Linked DNA regions of Homo sapiens: all the other regions are linked to region 1. The links come from fine-mapping of genetic effects on plasma protein levels. A gene starts in region 1. Each other region holds a variant in brackets. All regions are shown on one strand. Distances are between the middles of the regions.

Region 1 (8,183 bases):
GTATTGATGGGACATATCTCAAAAGAATAAGAGCTATCTATGACAAACCCACAGCCAATATCATACTGAATGGGCAAAAACTGGAAGCATTCCCTTTGAAAACTGGCACAAGACAGGGATGCCCTTTCTCACCACTCCTATTCAACATAGTTTTGGAAGTTCTGGCCAGGGCAATTAGGTAGGAGAAGGAAATAAAGGGTATTCAATTAGGAAAAGAGGAAGTCAAATTGTCCCCGTTTGCAGACGACATGATTGTATACCTAGAAAACCCCATTGTCTCAGCCCAAAATCTCCTTAAGCTGATAAGCAACTTCAGCAAAGTCTCAGGATACAAAATCAATGTATAAAAATCACAAGCATTCTTATACACCAATAACAGACAAACAGAGGGCCAAATCATGAGTGAACTCCCATTCACAATTGCTTCAAAGAGAATAAAATACCTAGGAATCCACCTCACAAGGGATGTGAAGGACCTCTTCAAGGAGAACTACAAACCACTGCTCAATGAAATAAAAGAGGATACAAACAAATGGAAGAACATTCCATGCTCATGGGTAGGAAGAATCAATATCATGAAAATGGCCATACTGCCCAAGGTAATTTATAGATTCAATGCCATCCCCATCAAGCTACCAATGACTTTCTTCACAGAATTGGAAAAAACTACTTTAAAGTTCATATGAAACCAAAAAAGAGCCCGCATCGCCAAGTCAATCCTAAGCCAAAAGAACAAAGCTGGAGGCATCACACTACCTGACTTCAAACTATACTACAAGGCTACAGTAACCAAAACAGCACGGTACTGGTACCAAAACAGAGATATAGATCAATGGAACAGAACAGAGCCCTCAGAAATAACGCTGCGTATCTACAACTATCTGATCTTTGACAAACCTGAGAAAAACAAGCAATGGGGAAAGGATTCCCTATTTAATAAATGGTGCTGGGAAAACTGGCTAGCCATATGTAGAAAGCTGAAACTGGATCCCTTCCTTACACCTTATACAAAAATCAATTCAAGATGGATTAAAGACTTAAATGTTAGACCTAAAACCATCAAAACCCTAGAAGAAAACCTAGGCATTACCATTCAGGACATAGGCATGGGCAAGGACTTCATGTCTAAAACACCAAAAGCAATGGCAACAAAAGCCAAAATTGACAAATGGGATCTAATTAAACTAAAGAGCTTCTGCACAGCAAAAGAAACTACCATCAGAGTGAACAGGCAACCCACAAAATGGGAGAAAATTTCCACAACCTACTCATCTGACAAAGGGCTAATATCCAGAATCTACAATGAACTCCAACAAATTTACAAGAAAAAAACAAACAACCCCATCAAAAAGTGGGCAAAGGACATGAACAGACACTTCTCAAAAGAAGACATTTATGCAGCCAAAAAACACATGAAAAAATGCTCACCATCACTGGCCATCAGAGAATTGCAAATCAAAACCACAATGAGATACCATCTCACACTAGTTAGAATGGCAATCATTAAAAAGTCAGGAAACAACAGGTGCTGGAGAGGATGTGGAGAAATAGGAACACTTTTACACTGTTGGTGGGACTGTAAACCCGTTCAACCATTGTGGAAGGCAGTGTGGTGGTTCCTCAGGGATCTAGAACTAGAAATACCATTTGACCCAGCCATCCCACTACTGGGTATATACCCAAAGGACTATAAATCATGCTGCTATAAAGACACATGCACACGTATGTTTATTGCGGCACTATTCACAATAGCAAAGACTTGGAACCAACCCAAATGTCCAACAATGATAGACTTGATTAAGAAAATGTGGCACATATACACCATGGAATACTATGCAGCCATAAAAAATGATGAGTTCACGTCCTTTGTAGGGACATGGATGAAATTGGAAATCATCATTCTCAGTAAACTATCGCAAGAACAAAAAACCAAACACTGCATATTCTCACTCATAGGTGGGAATTGAACAATGAGAACACATGGACACAGGAAGGGGAACATCACACTCTGGGGACTGTTGTGGGGTGGGGGGCGGGGAGAGATAGCATTGGGAGATATACCTAATGCTAGATGACGAGTTGGTGTAGCGCACCAGCATGGCACGTGTATACATATGTAACTAACGTGCACATTGTGCACGTGTACCCTAAAACTTAAAGTATAACAATAATTAAAAATAATAATAATAATAACAATATGTTATGCTGTAGTTGCCCTCCAAATGCTTGTCTTCTTCAGCTGAATTAATAGAAGCAAGTTGTTTAAAATACAGAAAGCAACAGTACCGGCCTGTACTGGTCAGAACCCACAGAGGGAAAGTAGGGCCTCTTTCTGGAAACAAACTTTGATTGCTGGGGGTGGATATCATTGAGAAACTGGGTCAGAGAAAGGCCACAGGCTGGTGAAAAGTCTGGGAATCGTCGCACTGAAGGAAATGGCTATGCGTGACCCAGAGAAGAGAAGACTCAAGGGAACACGAAGCCATCTCCAAAGCCATGAGATGCTCTCTTAAGAAAGAGGAATTCTATTTAGCTGCGTGGGCCCACAGAGGAGAGCCAGAATCAGTGGGTAAAGGTTTCAGGGAAGTAGATTTCAGTTCAATATAAGAAAGACTTTTCTAAGAGACCTGCTGGCAAATATAAACAGGCTACCTTGATGAGTATTCAGTGAGGCTGAATGACCACTTATTAGAAATGTCAGAGAGGAAACTCAAGCATAGATCCCATGTTTGGATCAGATAAACTTGAATGTTCCTTTCAGTCCCAACATTCTCTGTTAAAATTAGATTGTACTCCAGCCAAAGAACAGATTTCAATGGCACTTAGATATATCTCTTATAATTGTTAAGAACATGTGCATGGTCAACAAATATTTCTGACCGTTGTTGATTTGGTGGATATTTAAAAAGATTTAGAAAATTTACTAAGAAAGAAAAATGGAATAAATATACAAACTGTAGAGGACAGTCACAGGACCTTGGGAAGGTGGATGGTCCCCTACTAAGATTTTGGGGTCCCAAAGTACAAGCTGTAGCAAAACTGGACTTGTGCTAGTCAACATCTTGTTTATTTTGTGCAAAGCTGCCATCTCAATTTCACACACACGCAAAAGCAAAAAACAAAATAACGGAGCTTGACTTATCTACTAAAAGCTAATCTATCCTGAAAGAATGTGTTAAAATTACTCCCAGTAAGAGCTGACACAGTATAAAAGCTGTAATTTCCCAACTACCATCAGTATGTGAGATTTTGGGAAAGTCGATAGAAGCAAAGGATGATTTAGTAGCTGTATCAGGAACATAGTTTTCATATCCACAAATTGCTACAGAATCATGGAGTGTCACTGGCTCTAAAGCGCTGCCGGTGGACGCCACCTCATTAGCTGACACCTCTTAATCACTGTGGCTGGAATGTGGGCTTCCCTATCTTGAAACCGACCGCGGGCGATCAGAGCCGGCGGCGAGTGAGAGCTGCAACCACTGCGGGCTGAGCTCCGACACCAGAATCGGCGCAGAGACAGGGGACCGACCAGGCCAACTCTCTCCACTTGGGGCTGGGAGGGCAATTACCACCGACCCCCTTGGCTTCCCATCTACGACCCCGGAAGCCTCCCCTCCTCCAGGTACCCAACCTTCTGCGTGTCACCAATCACCCGCTACCCCCGCCTCCCCGCCCCCGGGAGCGCCTCCCAGGCCAAGGCTCCGAGGGCCCCGCGCATCTCCAAGACCGGACAGGGGTCCTCACTCGCAACACCTGCGGCTGGCAGAGGGAAAATACCAAGGGTGTGGGGGAGGGGGAGAGTGTCTCTCAGCCGCCTCAGATGGTCCTTCGGGCTCCCTGGGGACGCGCAGAGCTTCGGCGGAGATGGGAGCGGGGAGGGGTTAACGCGGGAAATTAAGAGACTCGGGCAATTGGCGGTGCTCAAGTTAACCGGGTCTGTGGCGAGAGTTCTGGGGTTGGGAGCTGCCGGCCGCGCACTCGCCCCGGGTCTGCAGCCACCGCCGCGGCGGTAGTTCTAGGGCGGAGCGCTCTCCCGCGCCGCGCCGCGGGCTGGGGGCACCAGAGGCCGCGCGGAGGCCGGGGCGGGCACCTGAGCTGGCGCGCAGCCGGGGCAGGGGCTGCAGTCCAGCGCCGGGGAAGGGGCGACCGAGCTGCGTGCGTGTGCAAGACCGGCCGCCGGCGCCTCGCGCCCCGACAGGTGCAGGCGCGCGGGCTTCCCATTGGTCGCGGCGGCGGGCCCCTTTCCCCGTCCCCGCCCTCGCCAGTCTCCGGCCACGCCGCGGCGCCGGCTGGGTTGGCAGAGGCGCGTGCTCGCGCGCCCGCGCACCCCTCGCCCCGTCCCCGCCCCCCCACTCACCCCGTCCCCACCCACTCCCTCTCTCCGCGCCGCCGCCGCCGCGCGCTCGCGAGTTCAGGTAGCGGGCGCGCGGGCGCCTCCGCGGGGGCGCGCGGCCGGGCTCCCGTCCTCCCCCAACACCCGCCCGCTCGGGGGCGCCTGGGGAGGGAGCGCGCGGGCGGGGGAGCTGGAGCCGAGCGCCGCCGCCGAAGCTTCCGTCTCGCTCGCTCGCGCAGCGGCGGCAGCAGAGGTCGCGCACAGATGCGGGTTAGACTGGCGGGGGGAGGAGGCGGAGGAGGGAAGGAAGCTGCATGCATGAGACCCACAGGTAAGACCGACAGTCCCGGAAGGGTCTTCCATTCCGAGGAGGCGCGCGCAGGCCGGGGAGGGGGAGTTGGTGCCTGGTGCAGCTCCCCAAGGGAGAATTTTTTTTTTTTTTTTGACAGCGCAGAGAAATCTCACTGGGGACTGGGGCAGTAGGATCGATCCCAATCCCGAGGAAAACCAGAGAAGTAGCTGGGGGAGACGGTGCCACATTGTGAGATTCCCAGAGTGAAATGTATAGGCCCAGGGAAAAGTGTCTTCGCGGCCCCGAGACGCGGGGAGGCTCTAGACTTTCCTGTGGTGGGCACAGCTGCTGAATCCCGGGGACCGGCGCGGAGCCAATGTGCGCTAACCCCTGCCCTCCCTCCTGTCCTCCATCCCCCAGCACGCGCAGCATCCCACGGCGGCTGTTACTCAGTGCACCCGGCTCGGGGGAAGGCGGGGGACCTCGCCGTGGGAAAGGGGGCGGGGGCCGCGCGGGGGAGGAACCAGGATGGAGCCTGGGAAGCCGAGGCGCCGGGTCCCAGAGCGGAGGAGGGGGAGCGTGGCCCCCGAGCCCGGACAGACTGGCTTATTGTGGTGTTCCGCTTCTGGTTGCAGACTCTTGCAAGCTGGATGCCCTCTGTGGATGAAAGATGTATCATGGAATGAACCCGAGCAATGGAGATGGATTTCTAGAGCAGCAGCAGCAGCAGCAGCAACCTCAGTCCCCCCAGAGACTCTTGGCCGTGATCCTGTGGTTTCAGCTGGCGCTGTGCTTCGGCCCTGCACAGCTCACGGGCGGTGAGTGACCCAGCTGTGGTGGGAGGGCCTGGGGATGGCCCAGAGGGGAGAAAGAGCCTAGCTGCCAGGACAGCCCTGCACCCCTCCCCCATACACCCAGACTTCAGGAGGATCTGACAACGCGAGGGTGCCTGCGTCCCAGCCTATGGCCGCCCTTCTCCGAAACCGCTGGAGTTCCCTGAAAATTCCCATGTGGAGCCCGCACAGATTCACACACCCACATTCTGTCTGGAGCTTCCCACCAGCCTCCGGGCCTGGCTTCTCCCAAGGAAAGACAATAAAGCCTGGCCCATTATTCCCACTTTGGCCAAGGAAGCGGGGGCGGGGGGGGGAGGGGTGGGGGGTGGGGGCAGTGGGGAGTGGTGTATTTGTGGACCTCTTGCCAATGCCTTCAGCAGATAGAGGTCAGATTTCAGCCTCTGGATTTAAGCAAGAGTTTAAGAACCACCTTTGAGAATGTGAAGGGTCTGGAAACGTGGTCAGACTGGCTGCGGGGCAGGTTTATTTGAAAGTTAACTTTCCCTTCCCCTGTGTGTGCAGCATGTATGTGTATGTTGGGGGCGTGGAGGAGGTGCAGAGGTATTCTTTCAGGTGTGCCTCTGACAGATTGCTTTGCTCATCGAGGTATGATTTCAGGGAATAAAGTCAGTTGCTCTTCTATGAAGTAGAAGTTAGCTGAAATAAAATTGATAGCCTCAGCCTCCGTGGGCGGCTAATCTATAACATATTTGGTTCTGGGGGAGGGGTATCTTTTAGTTGTGGTAGAGGAAGACAGATGGAGTTCCTGTCTGAATTTGAGAGCCTAGTCTCCCTGCCTCCACTGCTCATTGCTGTCCATCATTCCTGTCCATTGCAAACGTTCTCTAGAGCTTGCTGATGTGGACGTTAAAAGGAGCTGAGATACTGTTAATATATAAATAAATTATCTTTGGTTGAAAAGCAAGTATTGACTGATGTAAATAAACCATTTTAGCGTTTTAAAATATTGCTGTTTCAGAGAATTCAAAGGTGAAAATGGAAAAAAAATGAGTGAAAAATTAGCAAAAGTGGAGGAGAGGTGTAATAAGTTGGGCTTTAACACAGAGTAATCAATAACCCAGGCATTCCACTTAGACATCTGAAAGATGCCCAGAGTATAAAGGTGTTTATTGCAATGTGCATATCTATCAAAATTAGTGAGAAAACACTTGCTTTGGGTGGACATTGGTTTTTATTTTTATTTTTGTATTTTTTTTTTAAGAAGGAATAACTTTTTGGATGCTTGTAGTTTTTTATAGAGATTTCTCTGAGGCAAGCTTCCTCTTCATGGAGGAGAAGGTCAAGTGTGAGGCCAGGCCAGCACCTGTGTGCCCTGCCAGGGCTCTGGTCACAGCCTCTAATCTGCCGTGGACACCAGCTCTGCTTCACATATGAGTGGGAATAGACGGGCAGAACAGTATTGCGTGGATCTGGATCATTTCCTCCCCTCCTCTCTGCTTTTGCCTCCCAGTTCTAGCTTTCATTCTCTCAAACCAGGTCCACATGATTTTCCATCTTCTTGGTCCATTTCTCTTATGTAGATGACAGACTAGTTAATCAAGGTTCATTTACATTTGTCTTGACTATTGTTATTGGATGGGTGAGGTCTGAGCACAGCTGAGATTTGTTTTGTGCTCTTGGTTCTGCTTGGTCGTGTTTACAGAGCATCCTCCTCAACATTTCAGAGCTCAGTGTACATCATGGCCACCTCGGTCTTATGACAGTCACCTATGAGGTTCCTATAGCATGTCTTTTTTCCCTGCCTTCCTGTGGGGGATCATGCCAGGCAAAAATATCCAGAGCCTTGGAGAAGAGGATGAGAGTAAGGGTTGCCTGTCACCTGTCAGTCTCAGAGCTCTTTCTTTTTAGGCACTCATATGCTGCAGGAAGCTAGCCATCAGCTGCGTTTCACTTTGAACTCCTTCAGGCTGAGAGTGTGATTTCTGGAAGAGTATTTATCACTTCACAGTTCCTCTATGAATAAACCGTTTGGGCAAGCAAGGGTGGTGGGGGATGTCCTATAGAGTTCATTATACAGAGATTTTCTTTTTTAGGAAAGAAATGCACATGGAGGCTCCAATAAGGCAATAAAAGCAAATACACCTTAGCTCTAGACTTGTGCTTCTAAAACTTTAATGTGCATACAAGTCACCTGGGATCTTGTTAAAAGGTGGATGCTGATTCATTTGGTCTGGAGTGGGGCCTGAGACTCGGCATTTCTAATAAGCTCCCAGGTGAAGCAGTTACCACTGATCCAAGGACCACACTTTGATTAGCCATGCTTGAGACCAAGGCATTCCTTAAAATAAGTTGCTTCTGCTCCAGACTTTCTGCCATCATTCTCAATTACTGAATGCAAATGGCCTGTGAGGAGCAGAAGTCTCACCCAATATCTAATCTTCAGGTGATACACAGAGCTGAAAATCAGCCCTCGGAGAGTGCTTTTTTTTCATCCACAAAAAAGTGTATATTTAATGGACACTGTTCTGAAATGTGGATTTTCATTTTTGATTGCTTTCAATGGAAAAGGAACACCGCAATGGCAAGATATAATCGTCTCAGCTAGGAGAAAAAAAAAGCATGTGCCCAGTACAAGTATTGAAGAAAAAGCCTGAACTAGAAAGGCAGAAATTGAGAAAATGATCAAAGAAAAGTAGGAACAGGAACTCCATCAAAAATGAAATGCTTTGTCTTAGAAAGCCAGAGCTCCGATTCAGTTCTT
Region 2 (8,183 bases), 90 kb after region 1:
GGTGTGGGACCCTCCCAGTCATGCGTGGGATATAATCTCCTGGTGTGCCGTTTGCTAAGACCGTTTGAGAAGCGCAGTATTAGGATGGGAGTGACCCAATTTTCCAGGTGCCATCTGTCACCCCTCCCCTTTGCTAGGAAAGGGAATTCCCTGACCCCTTGTGCTTCCTGGGTGAGGTGATGCCTCGCCCTGCTTTGGCTCACACTCGGTGGGCTGCACCCACTGTCCTACCCCCACTGTCTGACAAGCCCCAGTGTGATGAACCTGGTACCTCAGATGGAAATGCAGAAATCTTCTGTCTTCTGCGTCGCTCATGCTGGGAACCATAGACCGGAGCTGTTCCTATTCAGCCATCTTGGAACTCGGGACTGGTTCTTAAAGTATGTGCCAAGGACTACCTGCATCAGAACTTAGGAAAAGTACATATTCAGACCTCCTGCATTAGAATGCTAAGGGTGGGGCCAAGGAATCTGCATTTAAAAAAAAATCTCCCAGCTGATTCTTACACATAAAAATGTTTGAGACTCACTAATTTAGGGATATGGTCTGATATTGCTTTGTAAGAAGGGAGAATAACATAATTTTCTCTAGTGTTCGACAAAGATCCTTAGAGATGTTTAATTCTTAGAATCAGAAATGTCAGTGTTGTCATTTTCCAAATGGAGACACTGAACCATATAAGAGCTTTAGTGACTTATAGAAGTCACACAGCAGGAAAGCTGGGAATTAGACCAGTGTCTTGACTCCTTGTCCAGTGCTCTTTCTATATCCTGGTGGTGTGCAACCCAGGCTGCCTGTCAGGATCACTTGCAGAACTTTTAAAAATAGAAGTGCCTGAGACCCACTTCAAGTGACTCTATTTTAATTGTTCTGGGTAGTGGGAGCCCAGGCATAGGTATTTCAACCTATGCCTGGGCACACCCAGGGACCTCTTTTCAAGGGATCCAAGGTAATTTCAGTGTGCAGCCAGGGATCCCTTCCACCTGTGCTTTTTGTCCCAGGGTCCCTGGTTACCTGATTGTGGCTAAAGGTGGCATAGAGCACAGGAGGAGGAGCTGTTCCTGCCACAGCTCCAGTTTGCTCTGTCTCCATGCTTAACCTTGTCTCGGTTCCTTGCAGAGTGCAAAAAGGAAAAAAAAAAAATATCATCCATTCATCAAGCATTAGTTTTAAGTACTCGCTAAAATATTTTGGCTCCCATAGACCTGACCGGGATTGCTATAAAAGATGAATAATTTGATGTTAAGAAGGTTCTTTGAGCTTCCTGGGGAAAAGGTGCAATATGAGTTTAAGTATTATTATTACGTTATAAATTTTTAATTAAAAGATTCAGCTCAACTCATAAGCTAAAGCTGGCAGTAAAATTGGCAGATAACTCCTTTATTCATTGAAACTGTGGGGTGCAGGCATTTTTCAAAAGCGGGGTGGTCATACTCATGTTTCCAGTTACTTATATGTTAAGTGAGCTGTCTTCTAGCTCCAGAGGCTTCATCAAAACAGATGGATGCTTTAAAAATATTTTATTTGGGATTTTTTTTTTCTCATGTGCATTCTCTATCATCTAAAATTTCTTTCTTATTGCCTTAGATGTGGATTATCAGAAATGACAGCCTGTGCCCACAAGGGCAAGTATTTGCATGTCTTCCCCCAAGATATTCTGTCCTCATTTTCCATCTCCTAAGAAGGGAAGGAGCAGAGGGATGCTTCTACCTGTCCCCAGGACCACTGTCATTTCTTATTTATGCTGCTGTTAACAGAAGCCACTGCTATCCTGTACTTGCTCCCTTGTGGCTTCCATGTGAGTTTAGTTTTTGTTTTCTAAAATATTTATTTAACTTAAATGTGGCCAGACTTGAAAGGGAAAGAAAATCCATAGGAAATAATATCAGGTCAGGTCGAGGCAAATCCTGCAAAGATAAGTGACAGAAGTGATCAGTTATGATGGTTGCAAGATGACAGGTGGACCACCACAGACAAGGGTTCTCAAGCCTGTGCAACCAAGCCCCCAGTAAGTGCAAATCTTGACAGCTGTTACTCCTGAACCAGCTGCCTCATGCGGTCTTGCACACGTGAGTGCTGAGACCTCACTCTTTCTGTACAGGGGCTGTGGAGGTAGGGAGTTGCTCAAAGTCCCAGAATTGTCAGGCAAATGGAGAACAACAACATCATCAGCACATACACAGATCCTTGTCAGAGCCTGTATAAAGGTCGCACAGTGACTGTTAGCAACCCTGAACACCAAACTGACTTGGGGGGATTTCCCCAGAAAGCAGTTTTTCACAAGCTTGCAACTGAAACTATCCAGAATTATGTTGGCTACTTATGAAAAATGCAGACCTACCCCCACTCGGGTCCTTCCAAACCCACTGCAGATGAAATTCATCTTCTCTCATGCCAGTCTTTGAGCAGTTTGGGGGCTGACCGAGGCTTTCAGGCAGCATCCTGTGAGTCCTATTACTGATTCAGATCTCCTTGGCACCCCATGCTGGGTCTGCAAGAGTGTGAGGCCTCGGTGTGCCTTGGTGCCCCAGCTTGCGCGGATTAGGTTCTGTTTTTCTTTATTACATTTGTCTGAGACACCTGCTAAGAGATGGGCCAGCGCTTGTTAAATTCCAAGCCAGCCTTTGAGTTTTGATTGCTATTCTTCAGTCTATTCAGTCACGCAGACTGACCTTGCATAGCCCATCACATGGTGGTTCTCAGTGTTTGACTTCATGGTAATTGCCGGGGGCGGGGGCTGGGAGCCATAAAAAAAGGCACATTTCCAGGCCCCAAGCTCAGATGCTTGTATGCAACAAAGAATCGGAATTTACCAGGCATTTCCAGGTGATTCTCATGTTGTGGAGCCTCAGAGGATTCCTTGAGATGCTTACCATGTGCACTCTATGAGCAGAGCATGAGACATGGGGTAGAACCTCTGGAAGTCATCAGCCCATGAGAAGGGCATTTGACATGCCTTCTTTTATTTTTCTTGTGAGTTCACCTCTGGCCTTAAAGTGCTTTCTGTCACTTCCTTGTTGTTGAACTTTCCAGAAGGTGGAAAGTGACCTTAAAGTTTCTTTAAAGATAAAATAATTAAAATTGGGTTTATTAAGAGAAAAGCAAGAAATCAGGTTAGATTTGCCTTCTAGGACAAAACTCTGAATCAAACCCAGTTTTTCCAACAACCTACATAACCTACATTCAGAGGTCAAATTGTCTTCTGAAAATTTGCTGGCAAATATTTGAGGTTTTATGCTTTTGAGAATTTCAGCACCACCCCCAATATGTTTAGTCGTTCACTCCCCAGAATTCCGTTAAGCACTCTCTACTTGCCAGGCCCAGAGGCTCCAGATGAACTGGGAAAGACAGCTACATAGGCAGTGATGTCCTTGTTCTTCTTTCTGGATTAATTCTATTGTTGTTGTTTTAACTTTTAAAAAATATATGAAATAAAATACATATAGCAGTGTACACAGCACTGAACAGTCAGTATTTTTGGACTCATAGGTTGTTTAGAAAGGTACTACTCAGTTTCCCAAAATATGGAGATTTTCTAACTATTCATTTCTATCTTTATTTCATTGTGGCCAGAAAAAAAAGAGCTCTATGATTTTGTTGTTTTGAAATTTTTTTGAGACTTTCTTTATTGCCCAGGTATGGTCATTTTTTGTAAATGTTCCACGTGTGCTTAGAAGAATGTGTAGCAGTCTCAGTCCCTCCAAGTGAATAGCTAAGAACCCACAAATAATTGCCCTCAATGCGTTAAATATAGAAATGAATGTTTTAAATAATGAAATACGAATCTACTAATTGCCTTTGTCAACCACAAATA[A/C]ATAAAATATTCCAATCTATGCACCAGACAAAGACACTAAGTACAAGAAGCATGCTTATTATAATAACTTTTCTTTGACCAACTGTTTTTCACGGGGCTTTTTCTCAGTGAGTTTAAGCCAGGGCCTAACTACCTTCAGCTGCAAGCCAAAAGGTCTTAAGTGTCTGGTTCTAGTTCTTCTTCAGGTTTCAAAGAGTCAGTGTCCTTTAAATATGAAAGAAACAACCTGGACCAGCCCTGCTCACAAAGCAAAACTATCCCACATGGTGGTGCCTCCTGTTCTATGAAGCATCCTCTCTCTCCAGTCATCTCTGAAGAGCATTGATTTTTGCCCCTCGTTTTCTCTGCCTTTCGTTAATTGCTGGTGGTCAAATCATTCGTCTCAGTTGGTTTCATTCAGCTTCTTCAGCCCGATCCTGAGTAAATTGTGGTGGTTGGGACAGTGTGCTCTGAGCTGTGCTGGAATGACAGTTCTTTAGAACAGCAGAAGGGTGGAATGGCACTGATATGGAACAGTGCTCCTGAGGGATGTTAGTGGATAGTAAGTGAAAAAAGCATTCTGTGGTACTAAGTTCAGAGTCCCCAAGACCCCCCTCACTTGTGATACCAGCTATAAATCTGGGCTCCCTGAGACCACCATCAGGTTCAAAAATTCACTAGGACTCAGGAACTCAGACTCACAGAACTCAGGAAAACTATTCTACTCATGGCTAAGGCTTTTTACAATGAAAGCACATAGATTAAATCAGCCAAGGGAAGAGGTGCGTAGGGCAGGGTTCAGGAGTCACCAGACATGAGCTTTCAGTTGTTGTCTTCCAGTGGGGCTATATGGACAACACCTCTTTTTTCCAGCAACAATGTATGACAATATACACGAAGTGTTGACAACCAGGGAAACTCACCAAGCTTTAGTGTCCAGAGTTTTAATCAGGGCTTAGTCACGTGGGCATGGCTGACCACAGTGTGGCTGATCTTCTTAGTTCCCTCTCCCTCCAGAAGTTGACCCGATACTGCATGGCCCATGACCCAAAGCTTAAATCACATGTTAGCATGGACTAAAATCCATGTTAGCATGGACCAGATGGCATGGCGAAGGCCCCTGCCATACATCATACTGTTGGCATAATCTGTCTAGCGTGGCCCAGAGCCCCCAGACAAACAAAGACACTCATCTCAAGCCAGACATTCCAGGGGCTAAAGGTTACCTCTCAGGAGCTGAGGGCAAATGCCTAAACCTCTCCTTGGGTAAGTTAATCCTTTACTGTACATATGGGAAACCCTTTGAGGATATAAATCAGATCATGCCTTGGCCCATGCTTAACAAACCCCAGTAACTCCCTATCACACTAAAATAATTCCCTGCCCTAATCTACAAAGCCCTGCATGATCTGGCCTGTCCCTCCCCTTCTTGGTCACTATATTCCAAATACACAGGTCTTCTTTAGTGTTTTTAAGGACACCAAGCTCTTTCCTGGCCTTTGCACTAGCTGTTGCCACTGCCTAACATGTTCTTCTCCAAGACCCATACATAATTAAATTGTTCTTGTCATTCAGATCTCAGCTTAATAAATGTCATTTCCTCAGGGGCCCCTTTCCTATCTACCCAAATTAAAAGAGTTCCTGAGTCAGTCCCTATCATGTCACCTTGCTATGTGTTCATCGTGGCAGTGAGTGTTGCCTGCTACTTTCTAGCACCTTTAGCTGTTAATTTGCCCATTTGCAGTCTTCTCCCATGCAAGTGCTGTAAGAGTAAGGCCCTTGACTCTTTATCCCCAGCACCCAGGACACCCTGAGCCTAGAGTGAGTGCTCTGTAATTCATAAAATGGATGAATGAACAGCTGGATGAATAAACAAGCTTGACAAATGCTGGTTTAAACAAAATTAAGTAGAATTCTTTACAGTAAGACCGTTCGAGCCTTTAATCTACTCTGTGGATTGTGAATCTCTTGAGCGTGTATTATGTATTCATGTTCCTGGGAACAGTTTTGGGGGAGTATTAATGTCAAAACTTGGTGTGTTGAAGGAATTGGATTCATTTTCAAGTATAACTAACTTTTAAAGAACAGTAAATCCTATGTATGGCACATTTTCTTTAAGATTTCTTTTACTGTTACTATTTCTGCTCCATCCCTTAGGCGCTGCTCTCTGCTAACTAATCTGATAAATTAATTTGTACTTGGGTATAAATATGCAATGCTGCCTTAGGATCTTTTACTCCTTCTTTTATTTATTCACTATATTGAATCCCCATTGATACCAGAAGCAGGATATAGAAATAATGACAGTGTTGGGCTGGTGAAAGATGATTTCCAGAATGGAAGGCTTTGATATCCTTCAAGTTACACCCTGAATGGCCTATTTATGCCTCATACACGTAAGTTCTAATTGTTGACCAGATTCAATAGGACAGAAGCAGATTTTGATGAATATTTTTGTAGAGTGCAGTGGTGTGATCTTGGCTCACTGCAACCCCCACCTCCCAGGTTCAAGCGATTCTCCTGCCTCAGCCTCCCGAGTAGCTGGGATTATAGGCATGTGCCACCACGCCTGGCTAAGTTTTATATTTTTAGTAGAGACGGGGTTTCACCATGTTGGCCAGGCTGGTCTCAAACTCCTGACCTCAGGTGATCCACCCACCTCGGCCTCCCAAAGTGTTGGGATTATAGGGGTGAGCCACCTGCCTTCAAAATTCTTTCTATTGACTAGATTAGTTTATGCTATAGAAAATTATGTTATTTCTGTTTGAGACTTCAGAATTGATGGATATTAGACATTTACTGTCAGACACTAAAGATCCTAGATTCTTTTTTTCTGTGGAAAGAAGGTCCATGGTTTTTCACTACTACAGAGAACTCACTGGGCACATACTTTTTTCTAGATACCTTCTTCCTACTTCACCCTCCTTTAGGGGGAGGATCAGATGCCAGACTTTGTGGGTAAAGAAATCATAAAGGCTCTGGTTAATGTTTTCTCTGTCAAGGTTGACTTTTTTGATAGAGCTGATCTGTGTTTGTTTTGTACTCATTCCTAGGGCACTGCCCCTCCTGGCCTCTTCCCCTTGTTGGGATTTGGACCCTACTTCTTACTCCCTAGTTGATATGTGGCTCCTCCCACATAGTAAATTGGCCTGGCATCACTCCCTATGGTGACTCTTCTTTCAGGAGGGCACATCATCACTGGGATTCAGGAAGCTGTGAATTCCCTCTAACCCTGTGTCTTATATTCTGCAATAGTCCCCATGCCATGTTTGGGGAAACTTTAGCTCTAACTAGAAGTTGAAAGCGTTCTACATTACACAACACTATGCTGAGAAATCACTCTTAGAAACAAGGCTTGGGTGCTTCTGCTCCCAGCCAGCCAATGTCCACGTGTCCATAATGCCCAAAGGGACGCTTCTATCCATTGACTTTATTCTCTATAGCTGGTCACCTCCTGAGTATACCAGCTAATTGCTGAACAAGTTTTAAATCAATCATGAAAATAGTTGTTTCAATGTGTAAATTACTGCCGCAGTACCTATTTACAGCCAAGATTTTACAGACGGATGCCTTGATAAATGTGTTTTTATTTGCTGTGAATAATTTCTGTAGAGTGCGATTGAAAAAACGTAATTCACATTTTCTATTAAGGCAGCAGCAGTGTGCAAAGAATTGTCAATGATCTTGTGACCCCAGTTAGGATTATTCTGGGATTGGGGTTGATTCTGGGGAACTCAACTATGCTAGCAGGAAAACTGTTTGTTAAACATGAACAGTTAGAAAACCCCTTTTCAGGCTGGGCGTGGTGGCTTACCCCTGTAATCCCAGCACGTTGGGATGCCAAGGGATCATGAGGTCAGGAGTTCGAGAACATCCTGGCTGATATGGTGAAACTCCATCTCTACTAAAAATACAAAATTAGCTGGGCACAGTGGCATGCACCTGTAGTCCCAGCTGCTCGGGAGGCTGAGGCAGAATAATTTCTTGGACCTGCGAGGTGGAGGTTGCAGTGAGCTGAGATTATGCCACTGCACTCCAGCCTGGGTGACAGAGTGAGACTCTGTCTCAAAAAGGAAAAGAAAACCCCTTTTCGCGGCCTGAAACATAAATATGAAAGGTAAAACCAAAGCCAGAACACAGTTCTTCACCCCAGACTCTCTTTGTTGAAATCATGGGCAAAGGGAAGACCTGATGACAGGTGTCCTCAGGGAAGGCTGAGCTGCAGGGCTGTGCCCCAAGCCTGTTAGCCGTGCTCCAGAGGGCTGTGCCCTCACAGCTTGCTTGGGCAGAGGTTCACAGAACTCCTTTCGGCACTCTTTCGCCAGGTGTGTGCGCAGGTCAGAAGCATGGTGGGAGGGTCAGAGGAAGTGAGCAACACAGTCCCTGCTCT
Region 3 (8,183 bases), 120 kb after region 1:
TGTCATTCATTTTTTTCATAGAAATGGTAACCATCATGCCTATGTTCATGATCATTTTCTTTTTTTTTTTGTACTGAAGCAAGTTTTTGTTGTTTTTGGCTTGCGTTCTGTAAAAAGATAATGCCTGACTCCGAACTGTGCCCACATCCTCTAAAGTTAGAGTGTGCAGAGAGGACAGAGCCTTCATCCCATGGCACATTTTTTTTCTTGTGGCTTCTGAAGAAAAGTCCAGGACTTTGTTTACATTCTGGCCAGTTTGTTCTTTGATGGATGACAACCTAATGAATTTTCTTTTTCTTTTTCTTTTTTTTTTTTGGAAACGGAGCCTCACTCTGTCTCACCCAGGCTGGAGTGCAATTGTGCAATCTCGGCTCACTGCAACCTCCGCCTCTCAGGTTCAAGCGATTCTCCTGTCTCAGCCTCCCAACTAGCTGGTACTACAGGCTGCACTGCCATACCTGGCTAATTTTGTGTTTTTAATAGAGATGGGGTTTTTTACCATGTTGGCCAGGCTGGTCTCAAATTCCTGACCTCAGGCCTTGGCCTCCCAAAGTGCTGGAATTACAGACATGAGCCTCTGCGCCCGGCCCCTAATGCATTTTCTGACCCCGTCTTCTCCATTCCTAGGAAGGGATTTCATTGGTCCAGGCCTTAAGAAGGGGAAGCATGACTGGAGTTTAAAAAAAAAAGCCAATTATATGGAAATTCATATTTTAAAACTAGTCCTTAGTTCAAGCTATCACAAGTAAACACCTGTGCCTACATCAGTCTGTATTTTCATACTATAAGTATATTATTCTGATGGAAATTATTTTGAATTGGGAAGAAAAGTTAATTTGTTCAGGAAGCTGGGAAGCCAAGAATTCTATAGCCAACCATGGCTAAAGCAGCATGCCAATGGGACCTTTGCCTACCATTCTGCTTGACATTTTTAAAGACTCTGTGGCCCTTGGAGTTAGCTGTGGGGGACTCTACTGTCCCTGGAGCATAACGATCCCCAACCTGGTTTCAGCTGCTGCCTCATTCCTTGGCGTTCGATGGCTTGTCGCCGCTTCATTCCAGCCTCTGCCTCGGTCATCACATGGAGTTCTCCCTTGATGTCTGTGTCTTCACATGGCCGTCTTCCCTCTGTGTGTCTCGCCTCTTCTTCTTTTATATATATATATATATATTTTTTTTTTTTTTTTTTAATTATACTTTAAGTTCTAGGGTACATGTGCACAACGTGCAGGTTTGTTACATATGTATACATGTGCCATGTTGGTGTGCTGCACCCATTAACTCGTCGTTTACATTAGGTATATCTCCTAATGCTATCCCTCCCCCCTCCCCCCACCCCACAACAGGCCCTGGTGTGTGATGTTCCCCTTCCTGTGTCCAAGTGTTCTCATTGTTCAATTCCCACCTGTGAGTGAGAACATGCGGTGTTTGGTTTTTTGTCCTTGCAATAGTTTGCTGAGTTAGAATGGCGATCATTAAAAAGTCAGGAAACAACAGGTGCTGGAGAGGATGTGGAGAAATAGGAACACTTTTACACTGTTGGTGGGACTGTAAACTAGTTCAACCATTGTGGAAGACAGTGTGGCAATTCCTCAGGGACCTAGAACTAGAAATACCATTTGACCCAGCCATCCCATTACTGGGTATGTACCCAAAGGAATATAAATCATGCTGCTATAAAGACACATGCACACGTATGTTTATTGTGGCACTACTCACAATAGCAAATACTTGGAACCAACCCAAATGTCCAACAATGATAGACTGGATTAAGAAAATGTGGCACATATACACCATGAAATACTATGCAGCCATAAAAAATGATGAGTTCATGTCCTTTGTTGCCTCTTCTTCTTATAAGGACACAAGTTGATATGTTTTGGATGTTATTTCCTCCAAATCTCATGTTGAAATTTGATTCCCGGTGTTGGAGGTGTGGCCTGGTGAGAGGTGATTGGATCATGGGGGTGGATCCCTCATGAAGGGCTTAGTGCCATCCCCTTGGTGATGAGTGAGTTCTTGCTCTGAGTTCACATGAAATCTGGTTGTTTAAAATCATGTGGTATTTCCTCCCATGTCTGGAACCCACTCTTGCCATGTGACACACCTGTTCTTCTTTGCCTTCTGCCATGATTATAAGCTTCCTGAAGCCTGTGCCAGAAGCAGATGATGGAGCCATGCTGGTACAGCCTGCAGAACCATGAGCCAATTACACCTTTTTTCTTTATAAATTACCCAGTCTTGGATATTCTATTATAGCAATACAATGAACAGACTAACATAACAGTCATATTGGATTAAGGGCCCACCCTACTATAATATGACCTCAATTTAATTACATCTGCAGTTACCCTATTTCCAAATAGGCCCACATTCACAGGTACCAGGATTTCAGTGTAAGAATCTGGGGGATACCCAATTCGATCCACTGCACATGCTCTCCCTGCCTTAGCTTTGGAAGAAGCAAACTCCCTTCCATCTTCCCTCTAGCTCTTGCTCCCAGGTTTAAAGGGCTGTCTTCGAATCTTCCCAAACCCCAGTTGGCCAGCATCCTTTGGCCTGCCCACAGCCCCTTCCTGAGCTAACCTTGCCTCTAGCCCGGTACACCGCACCCTGCTTATGCCAGCTGAGCCAAACAGAGGCTTCCCTGTATCTGTCAGGGTTCCTCCAGCTCTCTTTTCCTCTAGCTCTGGAGGCCTCAAGGCTTTTCCGAACTCTAACCCCATTGTGCATAATACATGTCTTAGCAGATAATGAAATCGTTGCTCTTCCACTTGGCTGTTGGGAGGCACTATGCTCCCTTTCTCCTGTGTTCACTTAAAACCCCATGGCATGACTCAGTAAGATATGGCAGCTTTGGAGTCAGCAGCACATAAGGTCCTGTCCCAGCTCGCTGTTAGTTTGCTAGATGACCTTGGGCAAATAACTTCATCTTTCTCAGCCTCAATTCCCTTATCTTTGCAAATGAGGCAATAGCAACACCTGCTCTGCAAAATTGTTGTTAGGATTGAGTGACATAATGTGCATATGTTGCCTCATAGTACGTTCTTGTGAAATGTCATTACTGCTCTCATTTCATCTCACTGGCCTGTAATGTAGCTAGTAATAGTCACTGTCTCTTTTTATTGAGCATTTCCTTTTGTGCCAGGCACTTTGTGCTTGGTGATTTACGGATATTATTTCTAATTCTTATAAATTTCCTGCAATGTAGGTATTACTATTTCTGTTGACAGATGATGGAAACCAAAGCTCAGAAAGAAATGAAAGTAAAATGAATGAAAATGAAAATAAGATGAGAAAGTAAAATGCCCAAGGTCATGGCCACTAAGTGTTTGAGCCAGGATGTGAACCCAGGAAAGTGCACCTTTGCACTCTTGCACCTTTGCACTAGAGGCAGTGCAAAGCTGCCTCTCTAGAGTCTCTCATTAATCCACTGATTTTCTTATGTCTTCTTAGCCTGTCCTTTCTCACATTCTCACCCTCACACTTTCTCCTATTCTGTTCTCCTAGCTGACTTTTCCCTTTCTTCCTCTCTTTTCACTGTCCATGTCTTCTAAGCCAGTGTTTCTTAAATTTGTTCAGATGTCAGAAAAGCATGGTGCCTTTCACAGAATAGCATGCATTTTTTGTTTTATGTTTTTTGCAGAACACTAAGAAATACTGATAAAATTCTATCATGTAAACTTTAGAATTACCTTTGCTAGTGGAAACTGTGGCTGTTTATTTTCTATGGATAATATAAACTTATTATAGAACTAACTATAATATAGAACCCATAAGTGCATACACACATACACTGAAGCATAGCTAGGAACAAAGCATGACCAATTGCTTCCTCCTCTTCTTAACTCACTACTCAATTATGTATTTCCTCATCTATTAGGACTTGCTAATAGACAAGAATGAGAAGGCACTAAGGATTTTCCTAAAAATTTATGGGAGGAAGACTGGAGGCTCAGAAAATTGTATACATGAATGTATGTGTGTCTGTGTGGCACTTTGGTCCAGTATGTGGATACACTAGCAACATTTAACTTCAGTGTCATCTCTGATAATAGACGGGTTTGCTGATTGCAGAGAGGGTCAGAAATGATCCACTCTAAATGCTCCCTTACCTGTGGGCTTCCTGGGTTACATGGTGGGACACACGCTCCATTTTAATCTTGTGCCCCTGATTTCCTTCCCTTACAAAAAATTCAGATGCCCCAATTACCTTTAGGAGTCCTGACTGTAGGGGGATCATGTATTGGAAAATGTTCACAGACGTCAAAACACTCTGACGCCACAGATGTCTTGTGATTTATTTTCACCTTGTGGTGGTGAAGACTGACCTCAGTGTAGCCACTGTGGCTCCTATCAATGCAAAGAAAGCAAGCAACCTCATCAGAACACAGAAACACGTGTCAGCTTTTGATTTCAGCACCAGCCATTCCCCGCTGCTGTCAGAGGAAATCACGGGTTTGCACCTGCTCCCTCACCTGTGTGCTCCTCTGTGGCTTCCTTGTGGCTTCGAAACTAGGCACACTTCAGATTTCTTATGTGAAGCCATTTTTTTTTTTCAGTGAAGTTTCACAGTTGTCATCACATGCATTTTGTATTCCTTCAGGGACATCCTAACGTAGTGACTCAGAGATGGAAAGCAGGTGAGAGCCCCTCCCTCAGCGCTGCTGGGTACTATTGATCTTAAATTTGATCTGTCAGCACATCTCTGAGTAGGTAAACACCATGCTCCATCCTGCTCACAAACAAGCAAAGCCCCAGCCTCAT[G/C]ATCATTGGCTTCCTTCAGTAGACACATGTGTTGGCCTTCTGTGTTGTTACAACAAAACACAAGTGGAAAATGTAATGTGCTGTATAATGTTTATTGATTTTCCCTGAGCTAAAAGCAAAGTTTCAGACGTAGTCATGGAGATGGCCAGGACTTTGGTACAGAGGGTTCCGTGCAACTTCCTGGAATCATTACCCAAATTTAGATCAGACTGGGGATGGCTGGTGCAATGGCAGTTTTGATGATTAGAATTCAGCAGAACTCCTGCAGGCAGAGGTTGGGTGGTTCTGTACAATATGGGAGCAGAGTCCCTGTCTTCCTGTTCCCTCTCAGAGCCACATAGACAACATGCTGGGCTGTCTTGATGCGATGCCTTTGCACTCAGTATACAGGCTCACTGGCTTTCCTGCCACTTCTCCACGCTCCTCAAGGCCAACTTGAGACTTGAGACCGTAGCATTAAGAGTCAGCTTTACTACTGAGCTCAGCTACAGAGTTTCCTCATGATCTGGAACAGCACTTCACTTCCCAAACTGCACTGTGCATGTGAATCACCTGGGAATCTTGCTGAAATAAAGTTTCTGATTGAGTAGGTGTTGCTAGAGAGTACCAATTTCTAATAAGCACTTAGTTGATCCCAAAATGGACAGTCCATGGACTGCAATTCATATAGCAAGAGTCCGGTGAAAGGTGAAGACCCAGACCAGATACCATGACAATTTAATTTGCATACTGGCTCCACTGAATGTTGTAAACCATCCATCCTTAGCACGTAGGGGATGGAGGGGGTCTCCTGACCATTGCAACTGTGGGGACGGTGCTTCTCAACTTTGTCTACCCGTTAGAATCACCCCAGGGCTTTAAGACCCATCCAAGCCCAGGACCCCCTCCAGACCAATTAGGCAAAGCTCCCCAGGTGATTCTGTGCAGCCAGGGTTGAGGAACCAGTGGCTTAACTCATTATTACACTCTTCAAATGCAGCACTAACATGGCAGAAAGAGGTGTGACAGTAATAATAGCAACAAACATCTGGAGCATGCATGTTCTGCTGTTTCACAAAGCAGATTCACATCTGTTATTTCTTCCTTATACCAACTGTATATGGTAGACCGCTGCTGTAAGAAGGTTACCAAAAAGGGATGATGGCTCAAACAAAATAGAAGTTTATTTTCACCTAGTGGCATTGAGTGAATATTGATCCGCCAGTGCCTCTTCTCCACCCAGTCATTCAGGGGCCAGTGGAAGCTCTGCTGGCTTCAGGGTGGGCTTCTGAGGTCCCCTAGGAGATCATTTCCATTCTAGGCAGCCAGAGAAGCATGGGAAGGCTTCATGGATCAAGCGTGAAAGTAGTAGTTATCATTTCTCTTCATATTCCATTGGCTAGAACTTAGAGAAACAAGGGACAGTGGGCAATGTGGACCAGCTGGGTGCTCGTGGAACATGGGTTATGGTGAGCAACCAGCAGCCTCTCCCACGAGCTGTGTGGGGTAGATGTGAATGCACAGACTAAAGGAGCAAGTCTTTCCTACATGAAGAACACCCGGGGGGCTGTATGGACCTTTGGAACTAGTAAGAATGAAAATACTCAGTCAAAGCACCTGGGCTCAGTGGCTCAGAAGGATTTAGTAGGTTAAAATATTCTATAATACTACATTAGTATTCATTCATTGTACATTCTAAATATTCATTTAGTAAGTTAAAATATTCTACATTCTTCTGCTTCCCCTGCCCCATGCCCTGGAGTTATTTGTATGGATAGTTGCAAGGCACACACTGGTTTTAAGCCTCATTTTATTATTTTGCATGTAATGAAACATATAAATTGGTTAAGGACTGTGATAAGTGATACATAGTTCTCATCTCAGCCCCCCTCCCACCTCTGAGTGGTGGCCTTGCCTCACACTTCATTCGGAAAAGGGGAGCCTTCAGAGGGCAGCTTACTCACATCTCCACCACCCTGGCCACCGATCTGCTGAGGCCTGTGTCCAGCACTCATGCTTCCCTCCAGCCCCTCCTACGCCTGTCAGAGGCCAGCCCCTCCTTCCACTCATGTGGAAGATCACATCTTTCTCCTCCTGAATGACTGCCCTCCTGCCTGGATTACCAACCTTGTACCCTGTGTTGAACCACTCCTGCCAACGTCTTAACAAGATCAAGAGCTCTGGGGTGGGGGCGGGGCTCTCCCTGGACCCTCCGGCCTCTGCTTTACTGCTTCCCTGCAGCAAACTTCTCTAAAGAGTCACCTGAGGTTTCCATCCCCTTTTACTCCCCAACTCACTGCAGAATGGCTTCCCCTCTGCCACTGTATCAAAGCTGCTTTTCTTAGGGTCTCTACTGACTCCCATTTGGCCAAATCCAATGGCCACTCTTCTTTTTCCATCCTTCTCAGCTTGTGAGGAGCTGCTCCCTCTTCCTTGGGACAGTCTCCCCTCGCGGCTTCCATGATGCGCCCTAGTCTCCTCTGCCATCTTTTTCGTCCCTGTAGGGTGTCTCAGCATTTGGACTGGGTCCCGTTCCCTTTTCTGTCTGCCCTCTCCCCTTATGTGAGTGCGTGCAGTCCCGTGGCTGTAAAGATTATTTCTATGCTCATGATTCCTGAGTTCTGCATTTATCCCAGACTCTTTCTCTGGCTGCCTAACTGACCTGGATGACTTTCCCACTGGAAGCTCAAACCCGACCAGTGCAAAACCAAGCTCTGTACCACTCCCTTGCCATGAAACAAATAAACCCAACAAAAACCTAGCATAGTCAGTAGTACCACAATCGAGCCAGGTCAGAAATCTGGGAGTTATCCTTCTTTTTCTCCTAGCCGCCTAATCACCAAGCCCTATTTAGAAACAGAGGAATAACATTCAAGTCACTCTTCTTCCCACCACATTGGCTGCCACTGTCCTGGTCCAGGCCGCCATCATCTCTCCAGGCATGGTAGCCACTTCCTGGCAGTCCTGCCATGTCTATCCCTGCTCTCTAACAGCCTGTTCTCCACCCAGCTAGCTTTTAAGAAATATGCCAGTTCCCACTCTTTGCAGTGTCCCTTCACACTATGATAAAATCCCAACTACTTGCCGTGGTTCCATGCAGCTGCACACACAGTGTCCCGCCTGCCTCCCATCCCTCGTGCTGTGTAGCCCTCTGTCTCCTGCACACTCAGCCACCATCGGCCTCTCTTCACTGCCTCCAGCCCACCTTCACATGTGCCATCCTCTCTGCCAGGCACATCCTCCTCCAGCACTTCCTGGACCGAGTCCTTCCTAGTTTTTATGCATCGTGCATTCCTGTATGCATTTATGATCGGATTAGGGCCTCTCATCTCTCTGTAGTGAAGGGACCAGTGATTTGGTTACTGTTTTCTAATACGTTGCAGACCAATAATACACAATAAAAACAGATACTAGATAAAATAAAAAGACAAACACAT

Alleles and levels. Alleles are on the strand shown, and positions count from the first base shown. The strength of an association depends on the size of the effect and on how common the allele is.
For the plasma level of the protein whose gene starts at base 4,545 in region 1, A is the high allele of the variant in region 2 and C is the other (strong association).
With allele C in place of G in region 3, the plasma level of the protein whose gene starts at base 4,545 in region 1 is lower (moderate association).

What was found. PIP is the posterior inclusion probability: the model's chance that the variant is causal. The UK Biobank Pharma Proteomics Project read protein levels with antibody pairs (Olink). The fine-mapping took linkage between variants from a reference panel, not from the people measured, so its PIPs are less certain.
Region 2: its variant is fine-mapped to the plasma level of the SUSD4 protein (UK Biobank, PIP 0.98).
Region 3: its variant is fine-mapped to the plasma level of the SUSD4 protein (UK Biobank, PIP above 0.99).

What each region holds. Positions count from the first base shown.
Region 1 is chr1:223,360,538-223,368,720 of GRCh38, reverse strand. SUSD4 (sushi domain containing 4) reads left to right here and starts at 4,545. Exons shown (of 9, transcript NM_017982.4): 1 at 4,545-4,664; 2 at 5,261-5,443. The coding sequence starts at 5,296.
Region 2 is chr1:223,270,265-223,278,447 of GRCh38, reverse strand. The region is part of intron 3 of SUSD4 (sushi domain containing 4); the gene reads left to right. Among named protein-coding and RNA genes, the nearest start is that of SUSD4, 90 kb to the left of the region's middle. The variant A/C (reference allele first, on the strand shown) is at 3,815.
Region 3 is chr1:223,245,226-223,253,408 of GRCh38, reverse strand. All of the region lies in intron 5 of SUSD4 (sushi domain containing 4), which reads left to right. Among named protein-coding and RNA genes, the nearest start is that of TLR5, 110 kb to the right of the region's middle. The variant G/C (reference allele first, on the strand shown) is at 4,768.